Linked DNA regions of Homo sapiens. The protein of the gene in region 2 interacts with the protein of the main gene of each other region in a biochemical or structural test. Each region holds a gene or a part of one and is shown on either strand. Other genes may lie near its edges.

The links.
Region 1: the proteins of NFIC (region 2) and LHX4 form a complex in vitro, tested with the Homo sapiens proteins (one study listed by BioGRID).
Region 3: the proteins of NFIC (region 2) and KLF8 form a complex in vitro, tested with the Homo sapiens proteins (one study listed by BioGRID).
Region 4: the proteins of NFIC (region 2) and KLF16 form a complex in vitro, tested with the Homo sapiens proteins (one study listed by BioGRID).

What each region holds. Positions count from the first base shown.
Region 1 is NC_000001.11:180,275,237-180,279,488, forward strand, and holds the end of LHX4 (LIM/homeobox protein Lhx4), read left to right. Parts: 3' UTR 1-3,748; downstream 3,749-4,252. UniProt on the Homo sapiens protein: May play a critical role in the development of respiratory control mechanisms and in the normal growth and maturation of the lung. Binds preferentially to methylated DNA.
Region 2 is NC_000019.10:3,432,565-3,439,595, reverse strand, and holds part of NFIC (nuclear factor 1 C-type), read right to left. Parts: intron 6,079-7,031; coding exon 6,004-6,078; intron 5,320-6,003; coding exon 5,196-5,319; intron 4,514-5,195; coding exon 4,389-4,513; intron 1-4,388.
Region 3 is NC_000023.11:56,227,836-56,235,377, reverse strand, and holds the start of KLF8 (Krueppel-like factor 8), read right to left. Parts: upstream 3,023-7,542; 5' UTR 2,103-3,022; coding exon of another isoform or gene 2,044-2,102; coding exon 2,037-2,043; intron 1-2,036. UniProt on the Homo sapiens protein: Transcriptional repressor and activator. Binds to CACCC-boxes promoter elements. Also binds the GT-box of cyclin D1 promoter and mediates cell cycle progression at G(1) phase as a downstream target of focal adhesion kinase (FAK).
Region 4 is NC_000019.10:1,853,550-1,860,580, forward strand, and holds part of KLF16 (Krueppel-like factor 16), read right to left. Parts: intron 1,212-7,031; coding exon 910-1,211; 3' UTR 1-909. UniProt on the Homo sapiens protein: Transcription factor that binds GC and GT boxes and displaces Sp1 and Sp3 from these sequences. Modulates dopaminergic transmission in the brain.

The DNA.
Region 1 (4,252 bases), on a different chromosome or scaffold from region 2:
CATTGACTCTGATGGCAAGAGGTGGTTTTCATTGCAGGTGACTGAGGCTGAGCTGAGTAGCCCTGGACCACCGCTGCAGATTGCCTGAGTCGTCCCCTTGGTGCACAGTGTGCCTTCTTCAATTGCTTGTATCATTTATTCCACAAGACAGGCTGTGGGCTGTAAAATGAGCAAAACTAAAATGTGGGGAGAACAAAATGACAATCAATCAGTGAACATTTGTAGACACATTTGGATTCCAAACCTGCAGTCTGTTCAGCCATATCGGCTGATGCCAGTCTTCCAGAGTTCCCCATCCCTTGTAGGGTGAAATATTTGGAGTCTGTTTTGAAGGAGTTGGTTTAGATGAGCTTGCAAGTCTACCCCTCTGAAAGCTTTCTCTGCTGTCCTAGCTGACTCAATTGGAGGACAGTTTTGGTCATTTCCAGGAACCAGCAATTTTTTTTTGGCCTACCTTGGTTGGGAAGAGTAATTTAGGGAGCAGCCCTAAAATTGTCCAAAGGGTTCTAAGTGGTTCTTGGGCTGCATCTCTCTGGATTGCTGGCTGGACACCTGCCATGCCTTGGGCTGCAGTCCCATGGTCAGAAAGCCAGAACTCTCTGGCCAGTGGTGGTGCAGGGACTCCCCGTTGTGCAGGTTTGCAGTAGCAAATCACTAAGCCTGAGGCCAGAGCAAGGCCAACCCCCGCTTTACGAGTTGCCACTCCTGCGACAGACTGCACTGCTGTGGGAAACGCTGTCCTGAATGGTGCTGCAGCTCCCACCCACCTTGTGCACCCATCTACCATCAGGAAGCTCTCCATGTGCAAACTGGAATTTAGCCAGCTGGAATTTATTCCTGTCCCTCTGGGAAGCTGTGTTTGCTTCTTCTGGCCTCCCATTCTCTTAAATGAGATCAGCAGAGTAGGAAAGGGTGAGAAGGCATTGCCTATCACATGAAGTGATGGGGCCAGAGACCCTAAGGACCCTTCCTTCTACGAATGGTTGGTCACCTTTTGAGGACTGCAAAGACTTAGGCATGTCATAGGCAGACTAAAGGAAGAATACACAGTTCCTCTTGGACTGCTACATCTTTTGTAAGCCCTTTTCCAGGACTAAACTAAGTTCAATTAAGTAAGTTCTTTAAAACAGTAAATTCCGGGATCAGCCTTCGGGCCCTCTTCTCTGACCAATTTTATAGCGTACCCTCGTTTTTTGGTGTGCTGCAGTGGTCATGATTTTTGCTTGAGAAGTCTGCAAACATAGACACTTCTCTTGAGGTTCCATGTTTATGGATGATGTTGTGTTAATCCTAGCCAATTCTGTGCTATTGGGAATTCTCCAATCATGAACACTGGGGTGGGGAGGAAGACACAAATGCCATGTGAGGAAAGGAAAATGCAGTCGTCTTTTTGGAGGATGGCTTTTTAAATACACCCTTCTTAGCAGGCTGCTTAAAATACACAGGAGAAAAGGCTCTGCTGGGCAATGAACCAGATGAAAAGCTGCCCACCCAGATCACTGTTGCAGGTTGACTATTTGGCTTAGCAACTCATGGGATTTCAGAGGCCCTTGAAGTTTTTGGTGAGTATAGTGTGGGGGAGAGCAGGCTTTTTAAAAGGGGGGGGGGCATCCTCCTCTGTGTAGCACTGTTTAAGATCACTGTAAGTAAGTTGACCAGTTTTTGTAAGTTAATCATACTAATTCCCAGTTCAATAGTGGAAGGAGAGGCCTTCCTCATTTATACTAATAATATAATAAATCTCTTGAGGAACTCAGTGAGCAGTTGACGAGGTCAATAGTTCTTTGGCATCAGTAGGGCTGGTTAGCTGGAAAAACCCTTGAGAGCACTGGCCTGAAAACCAGGAGAGCTTTGTTTTCCAGAGCCACCTCCCCAGAAAGCAGCAAACACTGCTGCCTGTTTAGAAGCACAGCCACAGTAGGTCTAAGATTTTAAATGGATCTCCCTACAGGTTGGGTTAGCATTATGGGTGGGCTGGTGCCACTAATGAGCCATTGCATGACAGGACTCTTCTGGGGTTTGGAAATGGAGAAAAGCCGGGCATTCATTACTTTTAGCTTCTCTTAGAGGCACTCCTCTGTTGCTTGGAAGTCTATTATGGGGTATAAGGTGCTACATGGTAGCTGTTTCCCCCCTTGCTAAAATGACATGGATGAATTTTAAAAATGAAATGAGACCTTCTAGAGGCAACCATTATCTGCAGTGCCTGGCTGGTCGACTTTAGAGTAGGAAGCTCTTGAATCCAGGAGCAAATTAGTTAAAACCCCAAGTTCCAGTGGTAACTGGTATAAGCAAAATGGAAACTGAGGGGCTATGGAGGAATCTCTGTTTGTTGGAACGTAATGAAACCATGGAGGAAATACCAGATTTAAGGGCTAAGAAGCTGGCCCGATGGGTAAATCAGTGTTGGGAGTCAGGTTCTTGGCCCTTCAAGGACTTGCTATGCAACCTCAGGCAAATTCCTCTCAGTCTTTGTGCTTTCTCTTTCTTGTCTCATCTGACAGTTATGAATATAACGTAAAATAAAGATCAACTATCATTGATAACACTGTTCCTGCAAATGAATACTGTGAAACATCAGGGAAAGAGGAAAAAATTAAGCCACAAGAAAACCATTTGGCAGTGTCCTTAAACTTTTTTTGGGGGGGGGCAGTGTAAAACATGAAACCTAGTAAGATAATTGGGCCATTAGATCTTCATCATTAAACTCACTTTGCAAGGAAGTGTAAGAAATCTGTAAAACAAAAGACATTCCTATCTCAGAAGCTCAAACTGGTGATTTCCAACTGCCTCTTTACAGGAGGGGGCTCAAGGCTTCTGATGAGCAAAGGCTGTGTGTTGTATGACAGTCCACTCTCTGCACCTACACTTCCACGTGCCACGACTGACAACTTGGTTATAACCATGAAAATAATGACCATACCTCCCCAGCCAGCAGGGTCTGGAAGGCCTGAGGAGGCTCATTTTTAAACACTGCACTTTAAAAATTGGAAACCGTGAGATGAAGAAAAATTCAATTAAGCGGAAATGAGTTTTGTTTTATTGCCTGCTGCTGAAGGGCTCTGGGCATGCTGAAAGCTAAATGAAAAGCACATCACTGGCTCTCTTCTTTCTTGGATTGGTCAATTGGCCCTTTTTGCAGTAGTTGCTCCAACTGTTCTAAACAGTGAGTGACTGGAGCCAAAAAGAGAGAGCTCAGCAAAGCCATCCCATCCACACTCTGCTTGGTAGGACCACACTAAAAGCACAGTTTCATGCTGCTAGCTCTGGTAAGGAGACAGCTGCAGGTTTGGGAGGTGCACCAAGCATTCCTTTGCTTAGGGAGGCAGAGCACAGGTGAACAGAGGAAGGACACCCCCACTCTCATCTATTGCCCACCGAGAGGCAAGAATCACACCAACTTTCCCACTTGAGGACTGTGTTCGGCCAAACAAGCAGGTTCAGGGCTGCGGGATTCCAGAAGTTGCTCTGAGCTTGCAATCAGACCTCAAAGCCCCAGATCCCCTCAGCTCTGGATCGTTGCCCTCATCCTTCACAATGTAAATTTTGTACAGTTAAAGAGAAATGAAGTCTCGTTTCCTGGGGAAAAAAAAGAAAAAAAGAAAAAAAAAAGACCCACCCATCCTTATTTATTGCCATATGACTTTGGAAAACAGAAGCTGGTGCGTTTGTTTGTATATGCCTCCTGTGTGTTGGCATGAGATGTGTACGGTAAAATTATGTAAAATAAATATGGAAATTCTTTAGATGCTGATGTGTCTTGCTTTTCATTTGGTTTGCTGGAAGTTTTTTCTCTTGACATAAATAGAATAAAAACTGAGTGATGTGAGGTCCTTTCCTTTTATCATCAGAAGGAAACCAAATATACAACTCTGAATGCCAGAACTATTATACTTAGAGCCATGAAATACCAGAACCACTCAATAAAGGACTGATTAGAGGAAGTTCCCTGGTTTTTCTAATAGTCATTTCCTGGGCACGATCCTCTGCCCCCAGACTTAGGAAATGAGCAGTAGAAATGTTGACCATATAACTTTTAGTTCCTGTTTGTTCAGTGGCATTTTTAAAATTTTTTTTTGAGACAGAGTCTTGCGCTGTTGCCCAGGCTGGAGTGCAGTGGTGTGATCTCAGCTCACTGCAACCTCTGCTTCCTGGGTTCGAGTGATTTTCGTGCCTCAGCCTCCAGAGTACGTGGGATTACAGGCATGCGCAAACACGCCTGGCTAATTTTTTGTATTTTTAGTAGAGACGG
Region 2 (7,031 bases):
ATCTCGGCTCACTGCACCCTCCGCCTCCCAGGTTCAAGTGATTCTCCTGCCTCAGCCTCCCGAGTAGCTGGGATTACAGGTGCCCACCACCACACCCGGCTAATTTTGTGTTTTTAGTAATGATGGGGTTTCACCCTGTTGGCCAGGCTGGTCTCGAACTCCTGACCTCAGGTGATCCGCCTGCCTCGGCCTCCCAAAGTGCTGGGATTACAGGTGAGCCTTTTTTTTTTTTTTTTTTTTTTTTTTTTTTTTTTTTTTTTTTGAGACAGGGTCTTTCTCTGTTGCCCCGGATGGAGTGCAGTGGTATGATCATAGCTCAGGGCAGCTTTGACCTCCCGTCTTAAGCAATCCTCTCACCTCAGCCTCCCAAGGAGCTGGGACTACAGGTGTACACCACTATGTGATGCTATTTTTTTTTTTTTTTTAAGTAGAGATGGGGTCTTGCCATATTGCTAGGATTACAGTTGTAAGCCACTGCACCCGGCCAGCAACCTGATCGTATAGCAGAGGAAATTGAGGGGCAGAGAGGTTAAGGAACCTGCCAAATGTCACACAGCTGGAGAAGCAGAGAAGCCAGTTGCCCGAGCTCCTCACTGCTCTGTCAGCCTGATTCTCCTCCTCGGGGAGGTCCTCCCTTTTCTTCCAAGTTCTATCAGGGTCCTCTTGTTCCCCCTGACTGTCTTCTGTGCCTCCTCCTCTGGGCTGTAGTCACCTGGATAAAAACCCATCTCCCTCACTAGGCTGTTAGCCCCTGGAAGGTAGGGACAAGAGTGGGTTGGATCATCTCTGTGTCCCCAGGGCCTCAGGTAGGGCCAGCACACAGGAGGGCTTTACACTGAGGATGAAACCCTCAGGAGGAGGCCGGGTGCGGTGGCTCACGCCTGTAATCCCAGCACTTTGGGAGGCCGAGATGGGCGGATCACGAGGTCAGGAGATCGAGACCATCCTGGCTAACACGGTGAAACCCCGTCTCTACTGAAAATAGAAAAAATTAGCCGGGCGTGGTAGTGGGTGCCTGTAGTCCCAGCTACTCGGGAGGCTGAGGCAGGAGAATGGCGTGAACCCGGGAAGCGGAGCTTGCAGTGAGCTGAGATGGCGCCACTGCACTCCAGCCTGGGCGACAGAGCGAGACTCTGTCTCAAAAAGAAAAAAAAAAAAAAAAAAAAGAAACCCTCAGGAGGGAGTGAGTTTGCCATCCCCTGAGGTAATCAAGTGGAAGCTGCAGGAGCACAGACCTCCTCTGACATTCCCTGCTAGCTCTGCGATTCCCAATCACAGAGCAGAAGCTGGTGGGGGCTTCCTCTTTGTCCTCCCCCCATTGCTACCACCTCCTTCCCCAGTGGAAGGGGTTGCCAGTGAGCAGCCGGGCAGAAAAGTCAGACTGAGCTCCAGAGCTTAAAATGTTTTCTTTTTGAGTTTTCTCTGTTGAAAGCTAGATTCTTTATTTTCCACCTTTCTCCTCTCCTAATAAATAGACTTAAAGCTACAATTTTTCCTCTCAGGGTTGCTTTGGCTCATCGCAAAGGTGGTCTTTCACTTTAATTAGCGTGCAGTTTACATTCTGACAGCCTCATCAATTACAGAGTTAATGAGAAGTCACGGCTGGGTGCGGTGGCTCACACCTGTAATGCCAGCACTTTGGGAGGCTGAGATGGGCGGATCACTTGAGGTTGGCGGATCACTTGAGGTCAGGAGTTCAAGACCAGCCTGGCCAACATAGTAAAAACCGTCTCTACTAAAAATACAAAAATTAGCTGGTTGTGGTGGTGCCCGCCTGTAGTCCCAGCTACTCGGGAGGCTGAGGCAGGAGAATCACTTGAACCCAGGAGGTGGAGCCGAGATTGCACCACTGCACTCCAGCCTGGGTGATAAGAGCGAAACTCCGTCTCAAAAAAAAAACAAAAAACAAAAAACAAAAAAAACGAAACAGAAGTGACTTTTTTTTTCTTTTTTTTTTTTTGAGACATAGTCTCGTTCTGTTGCCCAGGCTGGCGTGCACTGGCGTGATCTCTCAAAACAAGCAAGACTCCATCTCAAAACAAAAACAACAAACAAACAAAAAAAGAACCTCATAAATACTGAGACAGGTCCCCTGAGGGATGGAGACCCTTTAGGAATGTTCCTGCTCTGGGAGCCCACACTGTGGAAGGGAGGGGCCTTGGCACCTGAAATGTCACAACTAGATGCGTCCGAGTGCCGGAAAGAGACAGGAATTTTTTTTTTTTTTTGAGACGGAGTCTCGCTCTGTCACCCAGGCTGGAGTGCAGTGGCGCCATCTCAGCTCACTGCAAGCTCCGCCTCCCGGGTTCATGCCATTCTCCTGCCTCAGCCTCCTGAGTAGCTGGGACTACAGGCACCCGCCGCCACGCCCGGCTATTTTTTTTGTATTTTTAGTAGAGACGGGGTTTCACTGTGTTAGCCGGGATGGTCTCGATCTCCTGACCTCGTGATCCGCCTGCCTCGGCCTCCCAAAGTGCTGGGATTACAGGCGTGAGCCACCGAGCCTGGTCAGAGACAGGAATGTTATAAAGACGTGGATGACAGTGACCTCCCGTTTCCCGGGTATGTCGCATGGGCCAGACGGTTGCTTCACGCACATCCTACCCTTCCTCCTCCTGTAGCTCCCAAAGAACATTATTCACATCACCCCCATTGTGGAGATGAAGAAACTGAGGCTTAGAGAAGTTAAGTGATGTGCCCCAGGTTACACAGCACACAGAGCTAGACACGGGCAGGGCTGGGATCTGAACCCAGGTCTCTCCAATGCCTGAATCTGACCTCTTAATCCTAATGTTATACTGCTTCTAAAAATCCTACAGGTGGCCGGGAGCAGTGGCTCACACCTGTCATCCCAGCACTTTGGGAGGCCGAGGTGGGTGGATCACCTGAGGTCAGGAGTTTGAGACCAGACTGGCCAACATGGTGAAACACTGTCTCTACTAAAAATATAAAGATTAGCCGGGTGTGGTGGTGGGTGCCTGTAATCCCAGCTACTTGGGAGGCTGAGGCAGGAGAATTGCTTGAACTCAGGAGGAAGGGTTGCAGTGAGCCAAGATCTCGCCACTGCACTCCAGCCTGGGTGACAGAGCAAGACTCCATCTCAAAAAACAAAAATTAAAAAAAAATAAGAGGGGCCCGGCATGGTGGCTCACACCTGGAATCCCAGCACTTTGGGAGGACGAGGCAGGAGGAAAGATCACACTTGAACTCAGGAGTTCAAGACCAGCTTAGGCAACATAGTGAGACCCCATCTCTACCAAAAAAAAAAAAAAAAAAAAAAAAAAAATTAACGGCGCATGGCAGTATGCACCTGCAGTCCGATACTTGGGAGGCTGAGGCAGGAGGATCACTTGAACCTGGGAGGTCGAGGCTGCAGTGAGCCAAGATTGCACCCCGGCACTCCAGCCTGGGCAGCAGACCGAGACTCCGTTTCAAAAACAAACAAACAAACAAACAAACAAAAACAGAGGCCGGGCGTGGTGGCTCACGCCTGTAATCCCAGAACTTTGGGAGGCCGAGGCGGGCGAATCACCTGAGGTCGGGAGTTTGAGACCAGCCTGACCAACATGGTGAAACCCCGTCTGTACTAAAAATAGAAAAAATTAGCCGGGCATGGTGGTGCATGCCTGTAATCCCAGTTACTTGGGAGGCTGAGGTAGGACAATTGCTTGAACCAGGGAGGTGGAGGCTGCAGTGAGCGGAGATCGCGCCATTGCACTCCAGCCTGGGCAACAAGAGCGAAACTCCATCTCAAAAAAAAGAAAGAAAGAAAGAAAGAAAGAAAGACACCCCAGAGAGGACCCTTCTGAAGACAGAAAAGCAAGAGGATAAAATCTTCCTAGAAAACGACGCCATGGGAATGGAGACCCTACAGAAAGGAGACGAGTCTCCTGCAGAACCAGAAGATCCCATGGAGATGGGAACCTGGTTAAAAAAAAAAGTAACCTCAAGAAGGACCCCAATGAGAAGGGATCCGGCATCTCAGGACCTTCTAGAGGGGAAGAGGACAAACAGGGTCCCTACAGACGAGGGATTCTATGACAGATCCCAGGAAGAGGCGCCCTGTTGATCAGAGTCACTACTGAGTCCATCCTGCAGCTCGGGGACCCCACAGAGATGTGGCATTCACGGCCGGAGGGCAGGAGAGTCAGGCAGGGGACAGTCTCTGCCCTCCTTCGCCGCAGCGGAACCAAAGAGATCCGAGAACGCGAACCCGGACCGTACTTCCAGCCAAGCGCAGCTCGGGACGACTACAATTCCCAGGAGGCCCCGCGGCTCCAGGCCGGCTTCCTGCCCCGCGGCGCCCGCGCAGTGGCTGCCGGAAGACGTAGTTCCCGCCACGGTGACTCAGACCGGAAGGCCGGCTCCGCCCCCGCCACCAGCCCTACCTCCTTCCATGTCCTCCGTCCAGTTGCGGCTGCTACTCGTGGGCGAGCTGGGCGAAGTGTAGTAATCGCCGCCAGGGCTCGTGTCCACGTCTTCCTCCATCGAGCCCGATTTGTGCCGCTTGCTCCTTATGGGCGAGGGAAGGGGAGAGGCTGGTTACCAGGGAGACGCGGGGCGGGGGGCGCGACGGCGGGCTTTGCTACTTCCGGTCCTTAAGTGAGCGGGGGCGAGGGAGGTAGTATCGCGAGACATCGCGGGAGCCGCGGGCGTTCAGCCCGTTCCCTACGAACGCCTGTTCCAACCTGTCCATTGCTTGGATGGGACACCCGGGCCAGAGGCAGGGAGGGTCTCAACACAGGTCGGACACCAAGCTAGCATGGTGGAGACCAAAACCCAGGCAGCCTGGCTAATCTCCTGGCCACCTGTAGTCCTCAGAACTGCCTGTTAGGGGTATGATCCCATTTTATGGATGGGGAAACTGGGGCACACACAGTGTGACCTGCTCGAGGTCACAAAGCATATCTCAGCAACAACCTGTGTCTGCATTCTTCTGGGTGGGGAGGGTCCTAAGGGCTGGCTGAGCCGGCAGGACTTGAGGCTGGGGGAGCCCACGGTGGGCTGTCAGGGCTAGGGGAAGAGGCACGTGGGGCTGGCTGGGTTTTGAAGGATGAGATGAGTAGGAGTTTCTCAGGCCAGGTGAATCGTGAAAAGAGGTATTCCAGGGAGAGGAATGAGTCAGCTCGGGCCAGAGGGGATGGGTTGATGAATGGGGTCATGAAATGCCCAGAGGTGGGGACCTGGGTACTTACCCACTGGAGGAGGTGCTGGGCAGCGTTCTTCTGAGGCCAGTGCTGGCTGGGTTCAGGTCGTATGCCAGGTGCCCCTGCAGCTCCCCCAGGGAGAAGTTGGGTCCTGTTCCAGTCACCACGGGTGCTGCAGAGGGTGACAGAGGAGAGTGAGGCAGGAAGCAGTGCCCAGTGCTGCGGTTTGCTTTAGAGAGGTAGGGAAAGCCACTGGGTGCAGTCCAAAGGGGGACCCCCTTCCCATATTGGCCCGGTTCCTAGGGTGGCTGAAACCAGTTTTATTCTATGGATCAGAGGACCAAGGCCATGGGGAGAGGCCAAGAGCACACTGTGAGGCAGAGGTGTAGCCAAAGCTGGAGGCCAGGCTCTGCTGATCTGGACAGGGAAGGTGTCAGTCAGGGCTAAAGAAGGACAGCGCCCAGGACTCGCTGGGGTGGGATTCAGACAGTGTGTGACGGAATGTGCTGGGTCCCCAGCAGGTCAGCAGAGAAAGCAAGGGGACAGGAGGGGCGGGGTCCTTTGGGGTCTCCTGGGACAGGACAGTGGAGGCCCCAGGGAGGAGGAGGGATGCTGGGGCAGAAGTTTCCTTAGTTGCCATCCAGCATTTAGATTCTGTTTCCTGGAGAGGTGGGAGGGAGCCCTGACCTTGGGCTCTGGGAAGGGCCTGGCCACCTCCCTTTCTAGGAACCTTGGCTTAGTGACACAGGGGGTTGTCTGGAAAGGACAAGGAGTAGGGTGAGGGGGGTGGGCTCCTTCCTCCCTGCGGCCCCCTCCCCTCTCCAAGACCCAGCTCAGGGCTGACGGGAACACTCACTCCGGGACACTTGGATGAGCTCAGTGACGCTGAACACGCCGGAGGTGACAAAGCTCTCCTGGAAGTCGGTCGTGTCTGGAACAGGAAGACAGCGGGGTCAGTAGGCTGAGCTGGGCCTGTTTCCCTTCCCCACACTCCAGGGCTGCCTGGACTCCTGGGGGCTGGCCCGAGCCTGGACGTTCCCCCTGTCCATCCTGTGCTGTGGGGGAATGACAGCTCCAGTCTGATGGGGAAGGCCCCGTGGGGGGTCCTTGTCCAGTGTGGGCCTTCACACAGCCTTCATCCGGGTTCCCCCATGCTGTGGAATGCTGCATTCAAGTGAACAGCAGGCCGGGCGCAGTGGCTCATGCCTGTAATCCCAGCACTGTGGGAGGCCGAGGCAGGAGGAACGCTTGAGCTCAGGACTTCAAGACCAGCCTGGGGAACACAGCGAGACCCCATCTCTACAAAAAGTGTTAAAATTAGCCAGGTGTTGTGGTCCGTGCCTGTAGTCCCAGCTACTCAGGAGGCTGAGGCTGGAGGATCACTTGAGCCTGGGAGGTGGAGGCCGCAATGAACCATTGTTGTGCCACTGCACTCCAGCCTGGGAAACAGGGCGACACCCTCTCTTAAAAAACGAGTGGAGCCGGGTGCGGTGGCTCACGTCTGTAATCCCAGCACTTTGGGAGGCCGAGGCGGGAGGATCACAGGTCAGGAGATGGAGACCATCCTGGCTAACACAGTGAAACCCTGTCTCCTAAAAATACAAAAATTAGCCGGGCGTGGTGGCAGGCGCCTGTAGTCCCAGCTACCTGGGAGGCTGAGGCAGGAGAATGGTGTGAACCCGAGAGGTGGAGCTTGCAGTGAGCCGAGATTGCGCCACTGCACTCCATCCAGCCTGGGCAACAGAGCAAGACTCCATCTCAAAAAAAAAAAAAAAAAAGAGCGGAAAGCGGAGGCCTGGGCTCACATCGGCTCCATCACCTGCCTCGGTGTGTGATCTGGGGCAGGTCACTTTCCCTCTCTCAGCCTCCAAGTTTCCCTAATTG
Region 3 (7,542 bases), on a different chromosome or scaffold from region 2:
ATAAACAAATGAGCCCAATACTACAATGTTATTCCCTTATTCATACTCTACTTAACAATAAGATGGTAATCATACTAGATGATCATCTATGTCAATCATCCTAATTAAGTTTTCCTTCATTCACAAAATCATGGCATTGTAAAGCTAGATCTTAGAAGATCATATACTGCCCCCACCGCACCAGGCACAGACAATCTGGCAAGATCAAAAATGACTAGGCTCTGTTTGCTACTTTGGTTATTGGAATTCACTTAGCCAATGAGAACCCCACCTCAGAAATGCATGTATTAGAACAATGAGAGTGGTGATGGTAGTCTGCTACATGGTTATTTTTTTCCCAATTTCCAATGTGCCCTGAAAAGTCTAAACAAGAGGGATGTATAGCTCCTGAGGGCTCTGAAGGTACAGCCATTAAGTAAGTTGGTCTTGAGGGTGGACTACATAGATGCACCTGTCATTTTTACTTTTGAGGTTATTATTTCTACTCTTCCTATGTTTTCTGCCTGTCTGCCCTCCAGGCTTACCTGAAGACATTGCTCCCCACCCATTCTCTGTGTCCCCAGCAGTCACCAAAGGTCAACAACTCTCAAGGGCTTCCCCATAACTCTGAAGAATGGGATGAGGTCATTTACCTATCACTTGTTTCTGTTGTCCAAAAGTCCTGTTGGTTATATCATTCTGGTTAAGTTGCCCAAAGAATGAGAGAAAAGGCAGGCTAGTAGCCCTTTCTTTCAGAAGTGATGAAGTCTGGTGGAAACAATGTTAAATCAGAAGCAAATAAAACCTGTGTTCTAGCCTCAGCCTTTGGACAAACTAATTCAGTCTTCCTAAGTTTCGTTTTACCACATCTGGAAGGTGTTTTAAGGACAGAAAAACACTAATTTTATCAGCAGTGGTCCAGAAAAATAGTTCCAAACTGAGTAGAAAAGGGAAGTTGAACTAAGATACAAGTGGCAGCCTCTGCCACATACACAAGATATTTCATCCACCCGAGTATCTACTGAGATAGAATTATTAATCTGCATTCTATGGAAGAGAAAAGCAAGGCCCAGGGTGATGCAGCTAATAAGTGGTGATACTAGGGTTTCAAAGCAGATTACCCCAAACCATGGCAATCTCCATCAGTTTCAAATCCAAATTTAAAGATTATTCTTTTTGCTCAATTATTACCACACTGGGTGACAGGTGCTTAATAAATGCGTTTCTTCACGATGAATATAATACCAAAAGAAATAAGACATGGTGCCTTTGGCCACCTGTTTGGATGTGATTTATTTTTTCCCAAATTCTTAGGGTTAAAAAAAAAAGCCCACAAAAAGACAGCTCCGCCAAGTGGCTAAACAAATGGATTCACTTCAGCAATCACAGCAACTCGGCCCAGTCAGTCTTCCACCTACACAGACGAACCAACTGCCTTGGCCACGTCTTAAAGGGCCGGAGCAGAGCCTAGGCTCTGGCTTCCTTCTCCAACCAAGCTCAGCCCCTCCTTAAAGAGCTGGCACGCCCAAAGCAGCTCCTCCCCCGCAGCTGCTTCCAGGCCTCACTCTGTGCCTCCAATAGCCTAACTTTGCACCTTAAACCACTGTCCCCTCCTCCTTCTTTTCAGAAGCTTCTCTAGGTACCCGCTATGGCTTCAGGGGGTTACCTGGGAGCTTTGGCCTTGTGAATCCTGTTCTCTCTGGTTGTGACTTTGGCTGTGTGGGGTTAAGTCAAAGACAATCCTTACCGCTTAAGGAGTATTGGGAGTGCCGAGCCAGGGGAGACTAGACTAGACAAATCCATCCATTCTTGCCCCCTTTCACTTCTTCCACCAAGCTCTCTCCTCTCCTTCTTGGCCTTTCTTTGCCCAGCCCTTTAGCAAAGTCATTTTCCCTTGAGTTTCATTTGATTCCACATAGTGTTCTTAACCTTCCGCTCCCGCCCCCACTGCTGAAACCCCAAGTGGGGTGTGTGGGGGGAGCAGGGGGACTGGGAGGGGGATAGAATCTAGACGAAAGAGGTGGGAGTGGGTGGGTATTAGTCCCAGAGTCACTTACCGACCATGTCACTAGCTGAGGACTCCTGAAGTGTCCAGAACTCATGCCGTCCTCCGGGAGGCTCATACTCCTGAGCTGATCGCAAGAGAGCTGTTCCCCTCACACCCGCCCCATTCTGACATAGCGCAGGGCGACGCGTTCTCGTCTTCTCGTTCTTGGGCCCCCACTCCCCTATTTCTCCGGGCTGGAAAATGAGGAGGGGGTCGAAAGGGGAGGGAGTCGATTCAGACCCAGCTGGGCCACTCTCGGAACAAGGGAAACAAAGCTCTCAAGCATCCAACCCAAAAATCAGGGGCCGGCAGAGTAGACTTCCTAAAAAGAATCCTCCCCCCTGCAGCTTTTCCTTGGACAAAAATAAAGTGGGTTCGCTGGGCCGAAGTGGCCAGAGCTTAAGGTCCTCCGTTCCCCTTTTACCTCTACCAATTCAGTTCCGGCCAAGCCCGCTCTCCACCCATCCTCTGAACTCCACACACCCTTTAAAAGGAGAGGGCCGGGGGTGGGGGCTATGAAAACCAACCCAACCCCCAAAGCGCTACTTGAACATAAAGTTGAGGCGGAGAAGAAATCCTTCAAGACAGGAACCCACGAGGAGATACCACAAGAGGATCCCTTCACCGCCGCCGTTGCCGCCGCACACCCCAGCGCCTTCCTAAAAAGAAAGAAGGGAGGAAAAAAATGCCGACGATTGGTAGAATCATAGAGAAGAACACCAGCCCCAGGGCAGGGGCTTCAGCGAAAAATGGCAGCAACTCGTGCGGGTCCTCTGGGGCGGGGTTTCTTGGAGGCACCTAGCTGCCCCACGGGGTACCTCGCGCCCCACGCGAGTCAGAACCTAAAGTGCTCTCTGGGCAACCTGAGTGGGTAGAGTGATTCCGTCTTTCTCTGGCCCTGCTAGGCCCAAAGGAGAGGTGTGACTATCGTGAGGACTCCACCTAGGGTGGAGTTCCTTAAAAAGGACAGGCGGCCGCTAGAGGAGAGTGCAAAGTGGGAGGAGGTGGAGAAGGGTGGGGCTGAGAAGGAGGAGGGAGGAAGGAGGGGGTGGGGCGGGGCCCTGGGCCGACAGAGCTGGCCTCGCCTCCGGCGGCCGCCTCCCTCAGCCTCCAGCAGCGGCAGGTATAATTCCAATCAATTTCACTTCCTTATCTGTCCCAAAATTAAGGCTTGCAAGCACACTGCTTGATTACCTATTTACTCCGGTTATGCTAATTCTCCAGGGGAGGGTGGTGAAACGGGTACTGGGATTGGGGCTGGGGGCTGTCTAAGAGGGAAAGGAGAAAACAAAAAAGCTGACAACTGGAAGCGATATTTATCCTCCTACCTCTCCATGGTAACACGAACAAGGACAGCGAGGTCACAGTGTCTTCTCAGGGAGGAAGCTAAAAGGAACGGAGATTGGAGCTTGGTGCATTTTCTAGCAAGAGATAAGCCAAGGAGGTGAGGGCGAAGGAGTAGGTGGGGAAGAAGAAGGAGTTGAAGATGATCTGTGAATACAGCGTGGCCCAGCAGGGAGACTTAAGAAAGGCTTTCTCAGTCTCCCAGATACCAGACCTCTAAGAATAGAGTTCTCAACCCCCTGAGACCGCCTCTCAGCCAGGCATTGGCGAAGATCCCCGTAAAGCTGAATCCACAGGATAGGAGCCATGTTTCCAGGATTTCTTTACGCTTGCCTGAAAGTCTCTCTCTAGCTCATTTTAATGGGAGGCCAGGAAGTCACAAGCAACCACAGCCCATTTTCAGTGCCTCTTCCCTACCACAATTCTTTTAAAGAGGAGGAAAAAGAAGAGAGACAAGAAACAAAGCAGAGGGAGGAAGAGCAAAGAGACAGGAGAAATAATAATATCTGCCATGTATTCAGCACCTAATATGGGCAAGTCCCTGAGCCAGGTGCTTTTACATTCAACATTTCCCCATTTAGTCCCAATAACAACCCTGGGAACTAGGTACTGTTATATTCTCTGTGCCCTTTATTTAAAAAAATAAGGAAACGGAAGGCCTCAGCCCAGTACTTTCGAACACATAGGTCTACTTACTTAGTTGATATTTCTGCCTGAATGTCTTCTGTGCATCTCATCTACCTTCCTTTCCCCAAAACACTCTGTTCTTCCTCCTGTAGTTCACCAACTACCTGAATGGCACCACCATACATCCAAGGCAGCACCCTGGAACTCATCCTTTAACCTGCTGTGATCTGGCCTTTGTCTGCCTCTCAAGCAGCAGAGATTTTGCTGTTCTCCTGGGCTTTACCTGGATTACAAATCCCTGGGAATTCCAAGCTGTTTCCAATCTCTATGCCTTGGGTTGCTTTACTTTCTCTGACTGAAATAGACTAAGCTCTCTGTCCACCTTTTTTTTTCTTGCATGTCCTTCCAATGAATCTGTCCACTTTCTTGAAAGGACTAACTCAAGGTCATCTCCCCTCCTTACTTAATTTCTTCAGGCAAAACTGACCATTGCTTCCTCTGTGCCCTTCTCTACCTCGGGGCACATATTTGTTGGTATAATTGCCTCCCCCTACTAAACTATAAAGTCCTTGAGCTGAAGCACCAGGCGATCTCATTTCTGTAACTTGGATGCCAAGTTATATTATTATTAACAATAATAATAGTTATTGAGCATTAACTATGTACTAAACTCTGTTGTAAGCCTCTTATGTATATTAACTCATTGAATCCTTCTGACAATCCTATGGGTAGACATTGCTATCCCCATTTTACAGATGTGGAAACTTAGTGACAGGTTAAATAAATACACATGCATATGTATTTGTTTCATAAAAGAATGTCCCTGTAGTAGGGGTTTCATAAATAACTCTCTATCTCACTATATCTCTTCACCACGACCTGCACCCCTGCCAAGCTTACAAGGTAAGATATATTGAGATGGAATCATACAGAGAAGTGTACAACTCTCTATGCCTTCATTTAAAAAATTTACTTTATTCCTTGGAGGCTTTGTTTCTCAATGTATAAAATTTGGGGAGTATTATCCAATATAGGATTCTTACCACTACAGCACTGTTTTGAGCAATGCTGAAAAGTTTTCTCTTAGATTCAAGTGTGTGAAAGACATTAAGCAGTTTATATCAATAATAAATGCATTTTTGTGATGTGCAGATGAAAATGAGTAGATTGCTGAAGTAACATTTTGAAAAGAGTAGCCACTACTAGCCCTGAATACAGTGGGTGTGCCTTAAGGTCATCGAGTTACTTTTTCAGTCTGAAATAGCTTTTCAAGAAGGTCGATCCATACACAGATAGCTTAACAGTTTATATTTTATTAAAAGTCTTTATTGTTGACAAATTTATTTTAAGCTCTAGCTTTTTGTTTGTTTTAGAAATACTGCCTCAACTTTATTTGTGGGGAAAACTTAGACCTTAGATGGCAAATTCAGTTTTTGGAAAACTTGAAGTTATTGAAACTTGGAAAAACAAACCCAAGATCCTTTCCCATCTGTTCTTTCATCTATTCAGTCAATAAAATGTATTGAGCACCTGTGCTTTATCAAGAACAATGCTAGGTGTTGGGGGGCGGTGGAATGAGAACATCCATTCTAAGAGGCTCCAGTGGATGAACCCTCAATTTCACTGTACGCACACAGCCTATTAGTCCACATTTCCCCTTCAAGTCCTTTAGAGATGGCCTCTGTCTCACTCAAATTAGGACCCAAAGATGGTTCACAGGGAACTATGAAACCCATGACCACAGTTAATGTCAAAGGCAGGAGTTTGCCTTTATATTCTTTTACTCTTGACACATAGAAATAATCAGCATGTGGTTGGTGTTGTCTATGTCACACGAAAGGGTGTGAGGGAGCAGGTATGGGGAACTAGAAGTTTTGATAAATTTCCCTGTCCGTCTAGGAAACACCTCAGGCTCTCCTTTCTTTAGCTGGCTAGAATAAACATGAACCAAATAGCAACCTGCGATATTTTCAACTCCTTCCATCCCACCTTATGCGTGAGGGAGACTGCTTGAAGAAGCAGCCTGTGCTTTCCTCTATATATCCAAGTAATCAGATGAGGAGTGTTAAATTAAGTGTGGAACCTAATGAAAAGCAGCTGAGAAATATGCAGACACGATTCTGGGCCCACATATGCTGTTCTTCCCTTCTTCTCTTTCTCCTCTTCATCATCCCGCTTCTCCTCCTCCTGAAAGCCAGCTGACAAACTACCAGGGTGGAGCCCAGTCTGAGGGCTGGAGGGAAGGGAGGAGGAAAAGCCTCAGTAAGAGGACTCCACCCTCTCTGCTCCCAGTAGAACAACAACAATAAAAAAAAGAAGGCTTGAGAAGCTGGGCCTGACAGGAAGGTGGGGCAGAATAGGGCAAAGTGAGGAAGGGTGGGTAGATGGGAGGGGAGTTAGGACCTCAGCTGGGTAAAGCTGGGCTGGGGAATGAAAGGGAAGTCAAGCAATATACAAACAGAAAAATCTGCATTCATTAAATCACTGTTGTTTGTGGAACAACAAAAATGTAGCTAAAACCAGGGCATAGTTCAGACCTAGTGGGAACAAAATTGTCCTCCTCACCCACTTTTCTTCTTATTCCACAGTTCCCCAGAGAGCATATTCCTTCTGCGAGCTCAGCTAGAAGGAGACCTTTTGCCCCTCCGCTAATGTTGAACCAGTGTTAAGTTCCTCACATGTCCCAGAGGACAGCACTAAGGTTACTGCCAGCAAAGGATAAAGATATTTTGGAGAAGGAAATCTAGTTAGCTGAGAGAAGAAAGCCTGGAAGGAGATTGCGGGGATAAAACAATGATTTAGATTGCAAACTGTGCAACCCTGGGCAAGTGCCTTCACATCTCTAAACATTTCCTCACCTATTTCTTTTAAAGATATTACTTCACAGAATTGTCAAAAAGATTAAATAAGATGCAGAGGTGGCTTTACAGTAAAATTAATGAAGCTTAAGCTTTACGCCCCTTTCCAAGACTCCAGAAGGGATCAAACATTGTGTTTTTCTTAAAGATGGTCCCCAAAGTGGTATAAGCTTCCAGCCCCACAAAACCTAGATTGGCCGCCAATGAGATTATAGCCTACAAAGCACAGTGTCTGGCACAAAGAAAGCTCTCAATAAAGGTTAACTAATATTCATAGCAATGGCAACTGTGAAAACTACCAGCTTTAGGTTGAGTCTCTTTCTGGTCATAGATATTGAGAACATGCTCCTGTGTTCCCCATAACCCTTGCCACTGTATGTATAAATAAACCAGTTTATAAAAATCAGCAACTAAACTGCTTGCTTGAGACATTCAGAGGCATGATTAAATTTGGTTTAGGAATGGCCAATGGGCCAGAAACATGTGGCCAGGGTTTGAAATTCTGGCACCGCACCATCCCAGACAAGCTCTAGCAGGCCTGCTGAGTCCTATAAATTTAGTTGTGCCTCAGGCTGCTATCTTTATGAGCAAGGAGCTTGACTAGGTGTGTGTGTGTGTGTGTGTGTGTGTGTGTGTGTGTGTGTGTGTTGGGGCTAGGGGGTTGAGTATGTATGGGTTTTTAACTCC
Region 4 (7,031 bases), 1.6 Mb from region 2:
GGGAGAGTTGATTGTCACGTGATACCGCAACGGCCAAAGTCAGCAAGGCAGGGACTGGAGGCCCAAGCCCGGTGCCAGCCTCCCCTGCAGCCTCTCTCACCCACCCACCCAGAGAGGGCGAGCTAGGGCCCCCACACCCGAGGACAGAGGAAAATAAATAAGCCAGGATTCCCTCCCGACCCCACTGAGTCAAATGTTCTTTGGAAGAACCCAGAGGTCCCCTCCCTCCCCATCCCAGGTCTCAGAAGCAACACCTGGAGCCCCTCCGGGCATCCTAACGCTGCCCCACTCCTGGCTCTACCCCCGAGGTCTGGGGGGCCAGGCAGCCCCTACCGTGGGCAGAACTTGTGGACACCTGAGATTGAGTACCCGAATGGGGGGTGGCTGGGCTGCACCCCCATTTCCCTGAACTACTCCCATGGCTTTCGGTGGGGTGGGGGTGGGGTGGGGAGAGGCAGGGGCCGTGTCAACCCCCGACTCCTCTATGGCTGTCTGAACACTTCATCCCAATCTGCAGGGATGGGGCAGGGGGTGCTTTCCCCGGGCCGGCTCCCAGAAGTCCACTCCACCCCCCCAAACCCCACCCCGGGAGGGGGGCAGCAGGGGGTGGTGGAGAGGAGAGGGGAGGACCTCCTAGCTGCCCTGGGGGGGCCCCGTTGCACAGATGGGAAGAAAGTTAGTATCATGGCTATTTACAGACACAAGCCCCCGTCACCCATCCTGAGAGCCACCTCTGAGGTCAGGCAGACCCAGGTCCAGTCTCAGGCCCCCTCCTCACTCTCTGGAGGGGGGCAGGGGTGTCTTCAGGGTTTGCCCACGGCTGGAAGGGGCCCAGGCTCCCCGTGGGTCCTCACTACACCCCTGGATGGCAGAAGCATCCTGGCGGTCAGGGTGGGCTGCACGAGGGCCCTACAGGCCTGCGGGGGCTGGGCTGGGCGCGGGGCTGGGCGCAGGGCTCCCGGCCAGGCTGCAGGGCAGCGAGTCGCTGGGGGAGGTACTGCGGGCACCAGGGCGCCGGAGCAGGTCCGGGTGGAAGCCGGGGTGGCGGCGGGCGTGCTTGGCCAGGTGGTCACTGCGGGTGAAGCGCTTGGAGCACAGAGGGCAGGAGAAGCGCTTCTCGCCCGTGTGCGTCCGGTGGTGGCGGGCCAGCTCGTCGGAGCGGGCGAACTTCTTGTCGCAGCCCTGCCAGTCACAAGCAAAAGGGCGTTCCCCTGGACGGAGAGACAGAGACAGACAGCGGGTCAGCGGGGGCGGGGGGAGATGACAGACACGTTCCAGCAGATCCCAAAGGGTGGCGGGCATTTGTCCCGTGCCGTTTTAGAGGCTGAGCTCTGGTGTGAGTTCAAAACATGGAGAAGCACAAAGAATACAACCCTTACCCGCCCCCCGGTGGCCCAACACGAGACCCTAATAAATAATCCTCTTATTTCCTACCAGCTCTTAGAAAGGACTCTCCGGCGAGCCCAGAATCTGTTAACCGTAAGTAACCGCCGCAGACCCCCAAGGCTGAAGCTCCCCAGGCCCTCGCAGCCTCTGGCCCCAGGCGGGACCCTGGCAGGGATTAGCAAAGGCCTCCCAGTGTCTGTCCCAGGCACAGGCACGCTCAGAAGGCATGCTCGGCCTTCAGGCTGTCCCTGCCCCCCACCCAGGGGCATGCAGGGGCCTCCATCTGTGCATGATCCCCTCCTTTTCCAAATGACCACCTGGGATGCAAAGGCTGGGTTAAGGGGGTACAATCATGGCAACCTCCCTAACCCTCCTGGCCCCTCCACGAGCAAGGGGGCATGGGAGGAACCCGCAGGCACAGTCAGTCTGGGCCCCGATCTCGGGGTGTGGTTAGATGGAAGACAGGCAGGAAAGCTCACAGGGAGGGGAGGGGGCGGGGTCTCCCGGGAAGGGGCGGGGCCCGGCGGGCTGGACTCGCCCCACCCCCACGGGACAGATGGCGCTGGGCAGGGGCGGGCCACCACCCGGCCACTTCCTCCACAGTCCCCTCCCACCGCCAAGGCCGGGCCTCGCCCATCCTGCCCCTAACCAGCCGTCACCATCTGGGCCTGCCTGTGCGCCTCCAGGCGGTGTGGGTCTTTGCTCTAGAACTGTGCCACCCGACCCCTTCCTTTAGCCGGGGTCTCACGCCCACAGCATGTGGCATCGTGATGTCAGCGTCTCCCCAGCAGATAGGGGTCTCCAACGACTGGGGAGGGGCAGGTCAGTCCACCTCCACCCAGGGACCGAAGCAGGACAAAGGGCCCTGCATCCCCGAAGCTCCCACCCTTTCGGGCCCTGCACCAGGTACCCTGGACCCTGGCATTCCGGGACGTTATTCCCGTGACACCCCAGGGTGGGTTGTGTGGATGGAGACCGGATGTGCATGCCCCTCGTGGCACTGGTTGGAGCCCTGAGTAGCAAAAGAGACGTCAGAACCAACTCCCCTGAGTGGCCCCAAAGCCTATTCTCAAGGAAGCCACAGCAGGGCCAGGAGGGTAGTCACCCGGTGGGTTACAAACTGGGCAGCCCACGCCCAGCACTGGAGGTTGCTCTGGCCCTGGGAGCACTCCCACCGGTCCATGAAGAACTGCAGCCAGCCAGGGGCCTAGAAGGACCCACAGCAGGGACCATGGTGAGGGGTACAGAGACGGCGGGAGGGGCACGGCCATGCTCAGGGTGACCGAGTGACATCTCTGCTCTAAGATCAGGGGCTGCCCTGGGGAGCCCAGCTGAGGAGGGGCACGGGAGGGTGGAGGGGTCTGCCCACTGAGGGGCACCAGCGATCACCCGTGACCCAAGAAGAGCTGGAAGAAAAAACCTTCCCTTCTCATCTCATCCTTCCTCCCTGCCACACCCCGACACCCTCAGCAAAACAAGACTGCAGACAGAGACCAGCAGCCCCCCTCCCCAAGAGGTTGTGAATCCAGGCAGCTGGAGAGGGGGAGAGACCAGCTGTCACCAAGACCAACAGTAGCCTCAAATCCCTGGGGCTGCCTGCTCCACACCCCAAGTCTCCCCCAAGCAACCCAGGATGCAGCTGGGGTCGCGGGTCCGCCCCAGCTGGGGGCCGTCTACAACCCAAGCAAGAGGCGCAGAGCAGCCCTGGAAGGGACCCCACTCCCATCTCAACCACTGGGCCCTGACAGCTCCCAAGGGCCTCAGTCTGGGGACGGGGTCTGGCTGTGGGAGCGCGGCTGGAGCAGACCACGGGATTGGGGCTCGCGCCCCTCCAGGGAACATGCCGCCGTGTCGCCATCTTGCAAGGCACAGGCGGGGAGGCGGCAGGAGGGAAGGGGGAACATCCCACGGCTGGGTGCCGGACAGTCAGTTGGTTCACTTCCCCTTTCAGGGCGGCGGGGCTGGTCTCCACTCCCTCTCCCCCAGTTCCACTTTGCAAGGAGGAGCAGGTTGCCGGGGTGGGGGGGGCGACCGGGGCAGGGGCGCGCAGCCGCTGGGAACACAGCTGCCGCACGTAGCTCGGCGGCGGCGGCGGGGACATCCGCAGCCCCAGCCGGCCCCGCTCACGTGGTCCCACTCCCGCCGGGGCCAGGGGGCCCGGGCCAGGGTCGCCTCTCCGGCCTGGGTGCCTGCCAGCCCCGCCCCGCGCTTGGAGACTGAGGCGCGCACATGCGCACGTGGGTGGCGGGGCAGGGGGTGCACGGGCTACCCACCCACGCTGCGCTGGGCGAAGCGCCTCTGCGAAATGCCAGGCCCTGCCTCGCACACAATCCACTCGCAGGGAGGAGGGTGGGGTGAACTTGTGGGGGCCCAGAGCGCGCTGCTCCTAGCCAGCCGGGCCCCCAGGTGCACAGCCACCCAGCTGCTCCGCGCTACCTGGCCGAGACGCAGCGCCCTGAGGATGCGGTGGGTGGGGACAACGCGGGAGGGCAGTGTGGGCGGGGCCGCGGTGGACTTGACCCTCTGACTCAGGCTGGGCCCGGGTGAGCTCAGGACAGCCTCGGAAACAGGCAGGCTCAGAAAAATGGAGTCCAGGAAGTCCTGGAAACCTGGCCCGGCCCCGTCTGAGCCGGCACAGGAGGGGCCTGGAGACAGGACTGCGGGACTGTGCCAAGGGCCCTGGTTCCGACAGGGAAGCCTCACCTCCTGAGCTTGTCTGGGGGGCCTTGGGGTGGGGAGGGGGGCTGTGGCCGGCTGCCTGCCGGGGCACTCACGTCCACCTAACAGGTGGGGTCGGGTCTGTAGGGGAGGGCACAGGTGGGGAAGACCAGCCCCAGCCGCAAAGCAAGCATCCCAGGAGAGCCAGGAAAGGCTGGGGCTGGGGAGGCCTCTTACCCACCCAGGGAAGGGAGGAGCTCCTGAAGGTGATCCTTGAGCAGGTTCTATAGAACCTATAGGCAGCTGCTTCTGGGAGCCGCTGCAGAAAAGGGGGAACACTGGTGGTGAGGCCCTGCCAGCCTGGGGGTGGGGTCTCGAATACTACTGGGCCATAGCAACCCCCACACCCACTCTGCCCCTAGCTCCCCTGACTTCCCAAAGCCAAAGCTTCCTTCCTCCCCCATCCCCACTCCTCCAGTAGACTTCCCCTTTCCAAACCCCCTGCTGTTCCCGCCAAACACGCAGGCAGGCATACCCACCCTTGTGTCAATCCCGTACCTCCCCACGTGCCACCTGCCAGCCAAATCCCATCACCTTCGGGATCCGTCCAGGCCCCACCCTGCCCCTCCCAGCTCACTCCTGGACTAGTGCAGTAGTCCAGCAGCTCCCGCCTGGGCACCCAGACTGCGCTTGGCTTTCCTGAGTTCCGCCCTGGCCTAGGGTCAAAACTGATGGCTGATCCTGCCCGGAGCTTCTCTGAGCAGCAGTGCCCCTCACAGTGGCCTGGTGCCCCCCAAGCACCCTTGGTCAGCTTCTCTGTCTTTGTACCAGGCTTCCAAAAACGCATGCATCTTGTGGGTGTAATATCTGCACCCCTGCACTCCAGTGGGAGCAGAAGGCAGGCACTTCATTGACGGCTGGGTCCCCGGCAATGCCCAGCACAGGCCTGGTATACAGCAGGTGCTTAATGCATATCTGTGGAAAAGGAGAATGCAGGCCTAGGGGATCAAGCTCTGGTTCCAACAAGAGCAAGGGCAGATAATGTTTGCTCAGCATCTTGAATACTCCTGTCCTCCCCACCCCGCCGCCAAACTATCACTACTCCCTTCTACATAAAAGGAGGCCCACCTGAGGCCCAACCCAGGCCAGGACCTCCTGCACCAGACTCTGGGTACCTGGGGGTCGGCAGGGGACAACCCCCTCAAGGACCCTGGTGCCTGTGTAACCTCTGTTCCAGAAATGGTCTAAGCCAGGGTGGTGCCCCCCGCCCCCACAGCTCACCCTGCTGGTATCATGTGCCTCCTCCCCACCGATCTGGGCTGCTTTTATCAGAGAGCCTGGGTGGGGGTGGTTATCGCCCCCCACAACCCTGGGGGAGCCCTCCCCATCCCACTAGCTGGGGCACCTGCAGGCAGTTCCAGCTGCTCTCTGCACTCTGCAGGCTGGAGAGGCGGTGGGTGGGGGAGGGCAGTCCCTGGCCCCCTACCCCCCACCCCCTATGGCCTGGCACTGCCCCACTCCGACCCTCCCCAGATAAGCTGCCAGTTCTCCCAAGCTCTGCCCACCAGCACTGCCATCCCAACCCTACAGGAGCGCATAGTTCTGCCTGGGGGTGGAGGAGAGAATGAAGTGGGGCATGGCTGCTTCCCCCTCTGGGCCTCAGTTTCCCCACCCACCTGTCCTCCTGGGGCCCTCTTCAGCAAGGGATCAGAAACCTGGCAGGCACTCAGACACTCCTCTGCACACCTCGTCCTGAGGAGTCTCCCTCCAACCCAGTGCGTAGACCAGCACGCCTCGATCCCTCCCACATCTCGTCCTGCCCTCCTCAACCCCTCTCTGATCCTAATCCCTTCTCCATAAATGGATTTGCCTCTGCAAAGCCCAGCCTGCCTCACTGCCGCCCCCAGCGTCCCCACCCTCGGGATTAAGTGCAGGGATTCACCTTGCCGAGGTGCCCCCTCCCCACCTCAAGTCCCTACCTCCACAGCAGACCCCAGAGCCAGCACGCCCTTCCTCTCCCATTCCCTGCCCCACCCAGCCCAGTGGGCCTCAGGCTGCCTCCTCCAGGAAGCGCTTTCCGTCATCACTAGCATCCCTGTTGCCACCCCCCACCCCGCCCCCCGCCACCACGGACACAGTTCCCTAAGTCCTGGGGCGCGGGGACTGGGATGCTGGGTGCTGGCCTGCGGCAGGGGACTTCAGAGTGGGATACAACTGGGGGTGACCCTGCAGCCCCCTGGGGGGCACCTGACAAGGTCTGGGGACATTTGTGATTGTCACGACTGGGGAGGGGGTGCTCCTGCCATGGAGTGCGTAGAGGCTGGGGACACTGCATAACCCCCTGCAGTGCCCAGGACAGCCCCTCCCCAGAAAACGATCAGGCCCCAAATGTCTCGGTAAGTGCGGAGGAGAGAAGCCCTGGGTGAGAAGAACCCTTCCAGGTCTGAGCCCCTCTCCTGGGGAGGGTGTCGGCAAACCCTCTGGAGGTGCAGGCTGACGGTGTGCCGGGCACTGGCATGCCGGGGGCGGGGGGGGGGCCCTCCGGGGATGCAGGGGGTTTGGAGAGCAGGGAGCCGACAGCCAGCCTCTCCTCCCGCCCCCGCCCCAACTCGCTGGCTCGCTCACTCTCCGTAACCATAGCAACGGCGTCAACATCACCCACAGCTTCCAAAGTCCTTCCCCGCCCCACGCAGGGGAGAGAGAGCCGAGAGCTGGCCGGGCTAGGATAGGGGCTGTGGGCCAGACCCAGGGGACGGGAGGTGCAGTCCTGCCGCCTGCTGCCCCCATGAAGAACATCCCACTGCTCCCCTGGCCTCCCTGCTCCCAGGGCCAAATGTGGCCGAAATCACAGGTGGGGCTCCTCCAGTGTGCCTCAGTTGGTTTATCTGTAAAAATGGGGCCAGGCCACGACTGGTGTTCCCTTTACAGAGAAGCACTCCAGGCAGGGGTGGGTGGGGGTGGAACTCGTTCTCAATGGCCCCCGGGAC